4 linked regions of the Homo sapiens genome follow. The protein of the gene in region 4 purifies or fractionates together with the protein of the main gene of each other region. This does not show direct contact. Each region holds a gene or a part of one and is shown on either strand. Other genes may lie near its edges.

Region 1 (3,500 bases), on a different chromosome or scaffold from region 4:
CTACCCCCACCTCACCCTTCCGGCCCCGCCTGGCTTACGTGGCCAACAGCAGCTCTACCTCCAGTTCCGTGGTCTCAATGCTGATCCCGGAGGTGCTAAGGATGAGGTAGAAGGTGACCTAGGCCAAGGGTGGAAAGAGATTAGAGTCAGGGGTGGTCTACGGGCTTATGGAGAGGCTACTCACGTAGGGATAAGGGCAGATGTGCCAACCTGGGCACCTCTCTTCATGGGGTTCCCCAGCTCACACTCAACATGGGAGGCATTCTCATTGGACAGGCAGAGTGGCTTCTCCTGGAATGGGAGAGAAGGCAAGGTCAGTCTGGGTTACTGGAGCCCCTCAAGACCCCACCCCATCCTGCCCCCAGGTCCTCACCGCAGGGTCCAGGGCCCGGACCCCTGAGTAGTGCAGTGAGTCAGGAAGCATGACCAGGAGCTGGGCTTCATGGGCATCATCCCCATCAGCCTGGGGCTGGGCTGGGTCCGATGGCAGGTTGGTGACCATCAGCTCCAGGCCAATGACTGGCTGCCCACTCAGTGCAAACAGGGCTGTTGTTCCATCCACATCCCTGGAGAGTCAGACCCCACTCCTGCTAAGTTCTGAACACCTCCCCCTACCATTCCCCCGCCCAGTCTGCTCCCCCAGTACCTGCCTTCACTCCCTGAGCCTCTCTTCCCACCCCAGGTCCCCATCACACCCGTCCAAGCCTCAGGCCTCTGTACACACGACTGGGAGTCAGGGGACCTCCGTTCTCATCTCAGCTCCACCATTACTTACCTTGGCCAAGTAACTTAACCTCTCTAGGCTTCAGTTCTCCATCTATAAAATGAGACTAATATAATTCCTACCTCACAGAGGTTTGAAGACTAACCAATGAGATGTATGTAGACTGCATATTATTAGTGTACTGTGAAGGATTGCTATTCCTTGCCATGGGAGCCCCCGTGGCCCCATCACTGACCCTCATCTCAGTCTCCAAGTCCATCGGCAGGTCCTCTTCCACCTTCTGCCTTTTCTGCAGGCTCAGCCCTTCCCTCTGACTGGTCCTCCTGAGAGGGCTTTCTCTCAATCCTTGAACTCTTGCCCTCCCACCCCCACCCTGCTCTCTGCCCCCCTCACATGGGCAGAGGTTGGAATTCCGTGTCGCTGACCCGGGTACAGAAGCGGGCGCGGACCAGCTGCAGATTGCTCTGGCAGATCTTGTCTTCACCACAGCCTTGCTTCAGGAAGTGGATCTGGGGAGAGACATGAGATAAGGGGCATTCCTAGGGGGCAAGGCAGGGGGCAAACCTGTCACCATGGCATATGGTGGGTTAGAGTATCACAGGATTAAACAACCTGTCCTCAACTCTCAGATCTGCTGCTTATTAGCCATGTGATCCTGAACTGGGTCCTCTCCTCTGGGTCCTCTCATCATGGTAGTGATGGGAGCACTACCATGCCATGGTAGAGACTAGCAGCAAGTCAAGAGCTGGGCCACACTGCCCCAGCTCACATGCATGTAACTGAGTTCCGGATTTAGAACGGGAAAAGATGTCAAGGGCACCACTTCTGGGCCAGCCATAAAAACCATGCAAGCAAGGGGCCTCATGTTCTCCCTTCCAGCTGAATGGGATGAATGTGACTTCAAGAGCTTGAAGGCCGCATTTGAAGATTACAGAATCCCATCAACCTGAGCCCCCTGAATGACTACATGGAGTAGAGGAGCTCTGTCCCCTTGACTAGGAACATGGTCATTTAGGCACCTAGAGATATGAGGAATTACTGGAGTAGCATACGTGAAAGGGCTCTGTGAGCTGTGAATTGGTGTCACTGGGGAGGGACCATGATCTTTGCCCTCCCAGCTCCTCCCCCTGGGCTAAACCAGAACCCATGCTCACCTCTGCCCGCTGGGTGCTGGGCTGGTGGGCATTGAGGATGGGGGCCACTGGAGGCAGCCCCTGGCCAGGAGCCTGTCGCCGGAGCCGAGGGGTCTGGAGACTGTAGGACAAGGTCACTACAATGGCCCGAAGCTTGTCTTTGACATTTTCCTAGGAAGAGGAAGGTCTATTCCTCACTGGAACAATCCCCAGGCCTCAGCCCTGCTCAGTGCCCCAGCCAGACCTAGGACCAATTCTAAAACTTGGAAAGAATATTAGGGAGATGAATGAGAGAGGTGGAGAACTGAGCAAGGAGGAGGGAGAAAGACTGGGGTAGGGGACAGGGGAAACCTTTAGGGCTTTGAGGACCAGATGTGATGATAAAAGCTGCCACCTCCTCCATTCAGCTGGAAGAGGGGACATGAAGCCCCTTGCACCTCCTCCTCCTCCAGGGAGTGCAGAAATGACAGGAGAGGGCAGCAGATGAGGAGGAAGTGAGCTCAGAAGACAGGTTTCCCACGTGTCTAGGTCTTAGAAGGAGGCACGAGTGTGCTCGGGAAAAAGCAGCTAAGAGGAATCAGGGAAAAGAGATGGAGCCATGAAAATGACCCTCAGAAGCCAAGGGGTCAGTGTCCACCTGGAGCTGGAACATGGCGTCTCCACAGACTCGGTCATGCTGGTGCTTCAGCCACACGGTGCCCGAGGCCTGGTGCTTGGGTTCTTCCAGGTTACGGCTCAGGAACGTCACACGGGGAACCTGGCCCCGGAGCCTCCGGTCTGTGTCCGCATCTAACACATAGTCCAGGGCTGTGGCATGTTGGGAAAGGAGGAGCTGCTGAGCTGCAGAGCTGCTCCAGCTCACCCCATTCCAAGGGTGCTCTTCTACCACCTCGAAGTGACCCCCCTCCCTGGGAAACCCAAAAGGGCGAGCCACAGAGGGGGGACCGCACTCACCCACAGTAGGGCTATAGCTGCTGGGGACTGCAATGTAGCTGAAACAGACCCTTAGGTCCACACTGCGGGGGCAAAGGTGGCTCCTGAGCCAAACGAGGCTGATGGGCCAAGGCCCCTACCCCCACCCCATCTGTCACATCCTGTCACAGCCCCAGCCCCAAACTGGGGAGATAAAGGATCAAAGGGAGGGCAGGGGAAGCTGCCAGGGTCCAGGTGCCACCCGATCCCACCTCACCAGACCGAGTGGCCGCCAGCACAGTTGGGCTGCTCCAGGTCGATGCTTCGTGGAGCAATAGAGACCTCATGGGAGACATGGAGGATGGGTCTGGCCCTGGGATTGGGGAGTCAAGAGCACAAGAAACATGAGAACATGAGGCTGGGAAACACTCTTCAGCATTAGATTTGGCACTGAGGTCGGGGTCAGAGTCACAGGGAGGGGCTGACGGCCTCAGGGAGGGAAAAGGTTGAGAGGGGCTCACCTGAAGAGCACTGCGGTGTCAGCCAGGGAGCCCACCAGCAGGTCAGGGTATTGGTTCCCATCCATATCCAAGCTGCCTGACAGGGAGTAGCCGAAGCTCTTGATGCCCACAGCCTCGCCCTCCAGCACCTAGAGAACCAGCTGTCAGCCTCCCTCAATCCCACCTCCCGCAGGCCTCTGCCTCCCCTGATGCCTCTGCTGATTCCACCCA
Region 2 (3,500 bases), on a different chromosome or scaffold from region 4:
AAAATAAAAAATAAAAAATGTCCGGGAGCAGTGGTTCACACCTGTAAGCCCAGCACTTTGGGAGGCCGAGGCGGGTGGATCACCTGAGGTCAGGAGTTTGAGACCAGCCTGACCAACATGGTGAAACCCTATCTCTACTAAAAATACAAAAATTAGCCAGGCATGGTGACAGGTGCCTGTAATCCCAGCTACTCAGGAGGCTGAGGCAGGAGAATTGCTTGAACCTGGGAGGCGGAGGTTGCAGTGATCCCCAGATTGAGCCTGGGGGACAAGAGCAAGACTTTGTCTCAAAAAAAAAAAAAGTAAAAAATAAAAAAAAGGGAAGTTACTGAAAGAAAGAAAAAGGGGAATAGAAAATGTGTAAACGTTCTTCCACTTGCCCCATCAAGTGTACCTTGAAATTTAATAATGATGAACTCTTTTCAAAAGAAAAACAGTGATATCAGTATTAACAGAGAAAAAGAAATTCAGCCTGGCAATATCCCTACCAGTTGTTGTGAAAAATGCTATCCCAGCAGTCTGAGATGTAGTCAGAAGCAGAGTAGAACCATCGAAGGAGAAAAACCTATGTAGAGAGAAAATGGATGATGGTCAGGACTAAAGCCGGAAGGGAGAGTCCCTCTACCCTGCAACACAGTGCTGCTGCTGGACCTCTGCTCTGAGCAGAAATCCGCCACCAGCACTGTGTACTCACAAGCCCTCCTGGTGTCCCACCCTTCCCAGCCCCGATGCTCACAGGGGCAAGTTCATCGGTCAGGTCAGGAAGCACTGCTTCAGAGGACAGAAGAGCTGGATCTTTACGCAGCTGGTCGAGATAGCCCAAGAGGATAAATTTGTCACTCTCACTCCCAATCCAAGGGTCTTCCAGGGTTTTATACACCACCCTTCCTGCTGTGTTGCGCCTTTCTAAAATAGACACCTGGAAGAAAAGTAGAGAAAAAACATCAGAAGTTTCAAAAGCATGGTTAAGTTACAGTTGTTTGCTTTTTTTTTTTTTTTTGACGGAGTCTTGCTTTGTCGCCCAGGCTGGAGTGCAGTGGCGTGATCTTGGCTCACTGCAAGCTCCGCCTCCCGGGTTCACGCCATTCTCCTGGCTCAGCCTTCCCAAGTGGCTGGGACTAGAGGCACCTGCCACCATGCCTGGCTAATTTTTGGTATTTTTTTTTTTTTTTTTTTTTTTTTTTAGTAGAGATGGGGTTTCACCATGCTAGCCAGGATGGTCTCGATCTCCTGACCTCGTGATCTGCCTGCCTTGGCCTCCCAAAGTGCTGGGATTACAGCTGTGAGCCACCACACTTGGCCCAGTTGTTTGTTTTTTGAGACAGAGTTTCGCCCTTGTCTCCCAGGCTGGAGTGCAATGGTGCGATCTTGGCTCACTGCAACCTCTGCCTCCCAGGTTCAAGCAATTCTCGTGCCTCAGCCTGCTGAGTAGTTGGGACTACAGACAGGTGTGCACCACACCAGCTAATTTTTGTATTTTTAGTAGAGATGAGGTTTCACCATGTTGATTAGGCTGGTCTCAAACTCCTAGCCTCAAGTGATCCACCCGCCTCGGCCTCCCAAAGTGCTGGGATTATAGGTGTGAGCCACCGCGTTCGGCCTAAGAAATAACTTTTATGGTGACTTTCCTAAGCTTTTGTTAAAAGTTAAAGCTCTTTTTTCTCAATAGACTTTGCTCTATAACCTTGACTTAATATTAATGGAAACCTTTGTTTTTTAGAGAGATTTTCCATGATTGCGAAAATGATGAAAAGTCAGAGGAGAATTTCTTGTTTCTGTAGGAAGTGATGACAATGCAGGAGAAAGGCAGGAGAGATCAACCAGGATGAAGTTAAAGAGGCAGAGGGGGGCAGAAATTTCCAGAGCACATTACCAGTGGCCTAAGGATTTGTAAAATCTAGGATCTAGGATGCTGCAAGACCAGACTTGCCTTAGTAAAAAACTGGTGAAAAGCACTGATGACCTTTACCGTTCACTGATAGAAAACATGGTTTCTGTGGGGGCCTGAGGCTGACATCCAGAATGTAAAAAGACCAGGTCAAAAACTGTTTTAAGAGTAGGCTTTAGGCCAGGAGCAGTGGCTCATGCCTGTAATCCCAGCACTTTGGGAGGCGGGAGGATTGCCTGAGCTCGGGAGTTTGAGACCAACCTGGGCAACATGTCGAAACCCTATCTCTACAAAAAAATACAAAAAATTAGCCAGGCGTGGTTGTGTGTGCCTGTGGTCCCAGCTATGTGGGAGGCTGAGGTGGGAGGATCACTTGAGCCTGGGAGGTCGAGGCTGTAATGAGCTGAGATCATGTCACTGCACTCCCAGCCTGGGAGACAGAGTGAGACCCTGTCTCAAAAGAAAAAAAAAAAAATCAAGAAAAAGGAAAAACAAAAGAGTAGACTTTGAAAATAGGCTTCAGAGTTTCAGATTTCCTAGAATCTGTATTCAACACTCTCAAGGAAGAAGGAAACAGAATCAAGTGCCACATGGTTATGAAGAGCCTGGGATGAGGAGAGACTCTGTGGCTTACCGCTGATTTCCCTTGAAACGCCTCACTGTCTGGTAGTAAGGTGTCGGCAAACTCCTGCTGCCGATTGCTGTAGACATGCACAAATCTCACTGTGTCTTGAGTGTTTGCCAGGGCAAAGGACAGGAAAGCCTCAAAGGGTTTGCTCAACTTGGTAGTCTCAGCAGTCAATAAAACCACACAGTACCTGCACAACAAAAAGACAAAACTTTATAACCAATCCCTGATGGCAGGGCCAGCACCTATAATGGCAAGTGAAGGTGAAGAAGACGAGGAGCTCATCTTATGGAAGTGAATACACTGTGCCCAGTGAAAGCTGACATTTCAACTAAGGGAGGATTTCCAAGTCATTAACAAACTGTTTCTCTTCCCAATCTGTGATGTTTTTCCCAAACCAAACTTCTTTACCACATTTACGAATTTTAAAATTTTATATATATGAAATTTTATATATATGAAAACTATATATATATAGTTTTGTTTATATTGCCCAGGCTGGTCTTGAACTCCTGGCCTCAGACAATCCTCCTACCTCAGGCTCCCAAAGTGTTGGGATTACTGGCATGAGCCATCGTGCCTGCCAGGAATTTAAGGGGTTGGTCACTGAATCTCTGATGCAGCAGGGCCTTTCATTTTATTTTTTGAGATGGAGTCTTGCTCTGTCGCCCAGGCTGGAGAGTGTAGTGGTGTGATCTCGGCTCACTGTAACTCCGCCTCCTGAGTTCAAACCATTCTCCTGCCTCAGCCTCCCAAGTAGCTGGGATTATAGGCGTGCACCACCTCACCCAACTAGTTTTTGTATTTTTAGTAGAGACGGGTTTTCACTATGTTGGCCAGGCTGGTCTCAAACTCCTGACCTCAAGTGATCCGCCTGCCTCAGCCCCCCAAAGTGCTGGGATTATAGGCGTGAGCCACTGTTCCTGGCCGGCAGGGCCTTTTAGAAACTATTTGTCCTAGTTCTTCCAGTATAGGGAGGGCTGG
Region 3 (3,500 bases), on a different chromosome or scaffold from region 4:
AATTTTTGTAGAGATGGGGTTTTGCCATGTTGCCCAGGCTGGTATCCAACTCCTGAACTCAAGTGATCCACCCACATCGGCCTCCCAAAGTGCTGGGATTACAGGCGTGAGCTGCTTCGCCAGGCCTGTTCTTTCTTATTCTTTCTTTTTTTATATTTCTTAAAGGTTTCTGAATAAATATTATTAAAACCATCCCCCCAGTATGATCTTCACAATCATGATTTTATCCAAAGAGATATTCTTTCCTTCTTCCAAAAACTAGACTGACTATGCCAGATAAGAAAATACTGAATTTAGGCCCAGTGCAGTGGCTCACTCCTGTAATCCCAGCACTTTGGGAGGCCGAGGTAGGCAGATCACCTGAGGTCAGGAGTTTAAGACCAGCCTGGCCAACATGGTGAAACCCCGCCTCTACTAAAAATACAAAAATTAGCCAGGTGTGGTGGCGCACACCTGTAGTTCCAGTTACTCGGGAGGCTGAGGCACAAGAATCACTTGAATCCAGGAGGTGGAGGTTGCAGTGACCCGAGATCGTGTCACTGCACTCCAGCCTGGGCAACAAAGCGAGACTCTGTCTCAAAAAAAAAAAAAAGAAAGAAAAAAGAAAGAAAATAGAGTTTATATGTTGTATTGCTCTAAGCCTAAAAGAAAAAAAGTCAGGCCGGGCATGGTGGCTTACACCTGTAATTCCAGCACTTTAGGAGGCCGTCTCAAAAAAAAAAAATTTACTCAAAAGTTGTGTGATTTTTTTTTTTTTTTTGAAACGGAGTTTCGCTCTTGTTGCCCAGGCTGGAGTGCAGTGGCACAATTCTGGCTCACTGCAACCTCTGCCTCCCTAGTTCAAGCGATTCTCCTGCCTCAGCCTCCAGAGTAGCTGGGATTACAGGCGCCCACCAACACGCCTGGCTAATTTTGTATTTTTAGTAGAGATGGGGTTTCTCCATGTTGGTCAGGCTGGTCTCAAACTCCGGACCTCAGGTGATCCGCCCACCTTGGCCACCCAAAGTGCTGGGATTACAGGTATGCGCCACTGCGCCCACCAAAATTTTTAAATTTAAAAAAATACTCAATTTGGGCTGGGCGCGGTGGCTCACGCCTGTAATCCCCGCACTTTGGGAGGCCGAGGCGGGCGGATCACGAGGTCAGGAGATCAAGACCATCCTGGCTAACACGGTGAAACCCCGTCTCTACTAAAAATACAAAAAATTAGCTGGGCGTGGTGGTGGGCGCCTGTAGTCCCAGCTACTCAGGAGGCTGAGGCAGGAGAATGGCATGAACCCGGGAGGCGGAGCTTGCAGTGAGCCAAGATCACGCCACTGCACTCCAGGCTGGGCGACAGAGCGAGACTCCATCTCAAAAAAAAAAAAAAAAAAAAACTCAATTTGAAAACAATTTGCAATAGAAAACATAATCTCAGTTTTGGAAGACCATCCCTTAAAAAGCTGTTGGGGCAAGGCATGGTGGCTCACACCTGTAATCCCAACATTTTGGGAGGCCAAGGTAGGAGGACTGTTTGATCCCAGGAATTTGAGACCAGCCTGAGCAACATGGCAAAATCCCATCTCTACAAAAGATACAAAACAATTAGCTGGGTGTGATGGTTCATGCCTGTGGTCCCAGCTACTCAGGAGGCTGAGGTAAGAGAATCACTTGAGCCCGGGAGGTCGAGGCTGCAGTGAGCCATCATTGCATCACCATACTCCAGCCTGGGTGACAGAGCAAGACCCTATCTCAAGAAATAAAAAATGAAAAAAGCTGTTGGTGGAACTGCTGGTGTTCTCACAGGTAGCATAACTTTTGTGCCCAATAACCAAAGAACATACCTGGTCACAGCAGCAGCGAACATCACAGGCTCCAGCTGTTAAATTACAAGGACAAGGGCCAAGGGGCTGATACACCTGGTTAGGAATGACAGTCACGTTCTCTGAAAAGTACACACAACAGAAAAATTCAGCTAAGAAACATTCCGACAAAGCACAGTCACATTTTTGACATTCAAAAGAAAGCTGAATTATCGGCCAGGCGCGGTGGCTCACGCCTGTAATCCCAGCATTTTGGGAGGCCAAGGCAGGTGGATCATGAGGTCAGGAGATCGAGACCATTCTGGCTAACACGGTGAAACCCGGTCTCTATTAAAAATACAAAAAGTTAGCTGGGCGTGGTGGCAGGCGCCTGTAGTCCCAGCTACTTGGAAGGCTGAGACAGGAGAATGGTGTGAACCCGGGAGGCGGAGCTTGCAGTGAGCCGAGATCGTGCCACTATACTCCAACCTGGGCGACACAGTGAGACTCCGTGTCAAAAAAAAAAAAGCAAGCTGAATTATCTTGTTTTGTAAATCATTATTACCAAATATTTGACATTAAGGAATCCACGAAGTATATGAGGCCTGCATCTACCACTCCAACAAAAACCCAAACATAAGAAAACACGCCAGTTACAATGAACCAAAGAAGTCATAGTTGATCTAGAAGATAATCAATTGACTAAGAGTCACAAGTTAGTATATACATAATGTACTGATTTTAGGCTGGGCGGGGTGGCTCACACCTGTAAACCCAGCACTTTGGGAGGCCAGGGTGGGTGGATCACCTGAGGTCAGGAGTTCAAGACCAGCCTGGCCAACATAGTGAAACCCTGTCTCTAATAAAAATACAAAAAGTAGCCCAGGCTACAAAAAAGAAACAGATAAAATTAACTTAATATATTTTACTGAACCCAACGTATCCAAAATAATATCATTGCAACAGGCAATCAATGTAAAAATTATGAATGAGCTATTCCACATTCTTTGTTTCACATTAAGTCCTCAAAAACTGGTGGCTGTTTAACAGTTACAGCACATCTCAATTAAGACCCATCCCCTTTCAACTGTCCAGTGTCCAGACATGGTTCGTGGCTGTGGTACCCAACAGTGCAGGTGGGACAAATGTGGTCTGACCACGAGAGTATGGGGGGCTGGGTTATGCAGGGATGATACAGTGAGACACAACAGCTTCCCTGAGGGGCTCGCACTCTCAGAGGGAGGAGACAGGTAAAGAGATCATGTGACCATAAAGGGTAAACACTGAAATGGATCTGCCATGGGAACCCAGGGAGGGCACGTGGCTTAGGCTGGGCGTCAGGAAGACTTGCAGAGAGAGAGAATGCGCTGAGCCTGAAACACACGTAAGAGTTTGTACAGGTAGCCAGGCACAGTGGCTCAGGCCCGTAATCCCAGCACTTTGGGAGGCCAAGGCGGGGGAATCACCTGAGGTCAGGAGTTCGAGACCAGCCTGACCAACATGGAGAAACCCCATCTATACTTTAAAAAAAAAGAAAGAGTTTGTACAGGTAAGAGGGGCTACTGGAGAGCTGTAGGTGGAAGACAGAGGGGGTGGATGAATAGGGGGAACACTGTGGTGCAGGGGAGAAGGTGGCGGGCGTGAATGGGACAAGGCCAGAGAAAGCAGCTCAGGAGAAATGCTAAAAAGGTAAACATTGGCAGGGCCCGTTGTTTATAA
Region 4 (3,500 bases):
CATTTAGTGCTATAAATTTCCCTCTACACACTGCTTTGAATGTGTCCCAGAGATTCTGGTATGTTGTGTCTTTGTTCTCGTTGGTTTCAAAGAACATCTTTATTTCTGCCTTCATTTCGTTATGTACCCAGTAGTCATTCAGGAGCAGGTTGTTCAGTTTCCATGTAGTTGAGCGGCTTTGAGATTCTTAATCCTGAGTTCTAGTTTGATTGCACTGTGGTCTGAGAGATAGTTTGTTATAATTTCTGTTCTTTTACATTTGCTGAGGAGAGCTTTACTTCCAGTATGTGGTCAATTTTGTAACAGGTGTGGTGTGGTGCTGAAAAAAATGTATATTCTGTTGATTTGCGGTGGAGAGTTCTGTAGATGTCTATTAGGTCCGCTTGGTGCAGAGCTGAGTTCAATTCCTGGGTATCCTTTTTGACTTTCTGTCTCGTTGATCTATCTAATGTTGACAGTGGGGTGTTAAAGTCTCCCATTATTAATGTGTGGGAGTCTAAGTCTCTTTGTAGGTCACTCAGGACTTGCTTTACGAATCTTGGTGCTCCTGTATTGGGTGCATATATATTTAGGAGAGTTAGCTCTTCTTGTTGAATTGATCCCTTTACCATTATGTAATGGCCTTCTTTGTCTCTTTTGATCTTTGTTGGTTTAAAGTCTGTTTTATCAGAGACTAGGATTGCAACCCCTGCCTTTTTTTGTTTTCCATTGGCTTGGTAGATCTTCCTCCATCCTTTTATTTTGAGCCTATGTGTGCCTCTGCACGTGAGATGGGTTTCCTGAATACAGCACACTGATGGGTCTTGACTCTTTATCCAATTTGCCAGTCTGTGTCTTTTAATTGGAGCATTTAGTCCATTTACATTTAACGTTAATATTGTTATGTGTGAATTTGATCCTGTCATTATGATGTTAGCTGGTTATTTTGCTCGTTAGTTGATGCAGTTTCTTCCTACTCTCGATGGTCTTTACATTTTGGCATGATTTTGCAGTGGCTGGTACCGGTTGTTCCTTTCCATGTTTAGTGCTTCCTTCAGGAGCTCTTGTAAGGCAGGCCTGGTGGTGACAAAATCTCTCAGCATTTGCTTGTCTGTAAAGTATTTTATTTCTCCTTCACTTATGAAGCTTAGTTTGGCTGGATATGAAGTTCTGGGTTGAAAATTCTTTTCTTTAAGAATGTTGAATATTGGCCCCCACTCTCTTCTGGCTTGTAGGGTTTCTGCCGAGAGATCCGCTGTTAGTCTGATGGGCTTCCCTTTGAGGGTAACCCGACCTTTCTCTCTGGCTGCCCTTAACATTTTTTCCTTCATTTCAACTTTGGTGAATCTGACAATTATGTGTCTTGGAGTTGCTCTTCTCGAGGAGTATCTTTGTGGCGTTCTCTGTATTTCCTGAATCTGAACGTTGTCCTGCCTTGCTAGATTGGGGAAGTTCTCCTGGATAATATACTGCAGAGTGTTTTCCAACTTGGTTCCATTCTCCCCATCACTTTCAGGTACACCAATCAGACGTAGATTTGGTCTTTTCACATAGTCCCATATTTCTTGGAGGCTTTGCTCATTTCTTTTTATTCTTTTTTTTCTAGACTTCCCTTCTTGCTTCATTTCATTCATTTCATCTTCCATCGCTGATACCCTTTCTTCCAGTTGATCGCATCGGCTCCTGAGGCTTCTGCATTCTTCACGTAGTTCTTGAGCCTTGGTTTTCAGCTCCATCAGCTCCTTTAAGCACTTCTCTGTATTGGTTATTCTAGTTATACATTCTTCTAATTTTTTTTCAAAGTTTTCAACTTCTTTGCCTTTGGTTTGAATGTCCTCCCGTAGCTCAGAGTAATTTGATCATCTGAAGCCTTCTTCTCTCAGCTCGTCAAAGTCATTCTCCATCCAGCTTTGTTCCGTTGCTGGTGAGGAACTGCGTTCCTTTGGAGGAGGAGAGGCGCTCTGCTTTTTAGAGTTTCCAGTTTTTCTGTTCTGTTTTTTCCCCATCTTTGTGGTTTTGTCTACTTTTGGTCTTTGATGATGGTGATGTACAGATGGGTTTTTGGTGTGGATGTCCTTTCTGTTTGTTTTCCTTCTAACAGAGAGGACCCTCAGCTGCAGGTCTGTTGGAGTACCCTGCCGTGTGAGGTGTCAGTGTGCCCCTGCTGGGGGGTGCCTCCCAGTTAGGCTGCTCGGGGGTCAGGGGTCAGGGACTCACTTGAGGAGGCAGTCTGCCAGTTCTCAGATCTCCAGCTGCGTGCTGGGAGAACCACTGCTCTCTTCAAAGCTGTCAGACAGGGACATTTAAGTCTGCAGAGGTTACTGCTGTCTTTTTGTGTGTCTGTGCCCTGCCCCCAGAGGTGGAGCCTACAGAGGCAGGCAGGCCTCCTTGAGCTGTGGTGGGCTCCACCCAGTTGGAGCTGCTTTGTTTACCTAATCAAGCCTGGGCAATGGCGGGCGCCCCTCCCCCAGCCTCGCTGCTGCCTTGCAGTTTGATCTCAGACTGCTGTGCTAGCAATCAGCGAGACTCTGTGGTCATAGGACCCTCTGAGCCAGGTGTGGGATATAATCTCGTGGTGCGCCGTTTCTTAAGCCCATCGGAAAAGCGCAATATTCGGGTGGGAGTGACCCGATTTTCCAGGTGCGTCCGTCACCCCTTTCTTTGACTCGGAAAGGGAACTCCCTGACCCCTTGCGCTTCCCGAGTGAGGCAATGCCTCGCCCTGCTTCGGCTCGTGCACGGTGCGCGCACCCACTGACCTGCGCCCACTGTCTGGCACTCCCTAGTGAGATGAACCCGGTACCTCAGATGGAAATGCAGAAATCACCCATGTTCTGCGTCGCTCACTCTGGGAGCTGTAGACCGGAGCTGTTCCTATTCGGCCATCTTGGCTCCTCCCCCTCACTACAAAGGGTTTTGATGATTTATCTTTTGTATGTCTTCCCACAGGGCAGTGGCAGGTGTTTGGGCCAGACAAGCCTGTCCAGGCCTTGGTGGGGGAGGACGCAGCATTCTCCTGTTTCCTGTCTCCTAAGACCAATGCAGAGGCCATGGAAGTGCGGTTCTTCAGGGGCCAGTTCTCTAGCGTGGTCCACCTCTACAGGGACGGGAAGGACCAGCCATTTATGCAGATGCCACAGTATCAAGGCAGGACAAAACTGGTGAAGGATTCTATTGCGGAGGGGCGCATCTCTCTGAGGCTGGAAAACATTACTGTGTTGGATGCTGGCCTCTATGGGTGCAGGATTAGTTCCCAGTCTTACTACCAGAAGGCCATCTGGGAGCTACAGGTGTCAGGTCAGTTTCATATTTCATAACTTAGTTGTCCCAAAGAACCATCCTGGACTTTATAAGTGTTTTTTTCAATAAGGAAATTTTAAAATTTTAGGTCATTTAGTTAGAAGGCAGCATTCTATACTCTACGTTCCTTCTGTCTTGTGTGTATAGTTCTATGTGTTTTGTCACATGTTTAAATTCAGGTAACCACCATCACATCAAGGTATAGAACTACCCCATCATCAC

The links. Proteins that work in one complex are often made in the same cells at the same time.
Region 1: the proteins of BTNL8 (region 4) and ITGA7 purify together in Homo sapiens (affinity purification with mass spectrometry; 3 studies listed by BioGRID and IntAct, with this or other methods). This does not show direct contact.
Region 2: the proteins of BTNL8 (region 4) and DNAJC16 purify together in Homo sapiens (affinity purification with mass spectrometry; 3 studies listed by BioGRID and IntAct, with this or other methods). This does not show direct contact.
Region 3: the proteins of BTNL8 (region 4) and TCTN2 purify together in Homo sapiens (affinity purification with mass spectrometry; 3 studies listed by BioGRID and IntAct, with this or other methods). This does not show direct contact.

Annotation. Positions count from the first base shown.
Region 1 is NC_000012.12:55,694,405-55,697,904, forward strand, and holds part of ITGA7 (integrin alpha-7 isoform 2 precursor), read right to left. Parts: intron 3,419-3,500; coding exon 3,291-3,418; intron 3,143-3,290; coding exon 3,047-3,142; intron 2,874-3,046; coding exon 2,812-2,873; intron 2,665-2,811; coding exon 2,495-2,664; intron 2,029-2,494; coding exon 1,879-2,028; intron 1,234-1,878; coding exon 1,118-1,233; intron 567-1,117; coding exon 374-566; intron 292-373; coding exon 211-291; intron 119-210; coding exon 39-118; intron 1-38. UniProt on the Homo sapiens protein: Integrin alpha-7/beta-1 is the primary laminin receptor on skeletal myoblasts and adult myofibers.
Region 2 is NC_000001.11:15,561,348-15,564,847, reverse strand, and holds part of DNAJC16 (dnaJ homolog subfamily C member 16 isoform 1 precursor), read right to left. Parts: intron 2,707-3,500; coding exon 2,523-2,706; intron 920-2,522; coding exon 737-919; intron 566-736; coding exon 489-565; intron 1-488. UniProt on the Homo sapiens protein: Plays an important role in regulating the size of autophagosomes during the formation process.
Region 3 is NC_000012.12:123,677,613-123,681,112, reverse strand, and holds part of TCTN2 (tectonic-2 isoform 1 precursor), read right to left. Parts: intron 1,925-3,500; coding exon 1,824-1,924; intron 1-1,823.
Region 4 is NC_000005.10:180,905,659-180,909,158, forward strand, and holds part of BTNL8 (butyrophilin-like protein 8 isoform 2 precursor), read left to right. Parts: intron 1-2,927; coding exon 2,928-3,275; intron 3,276-3,500.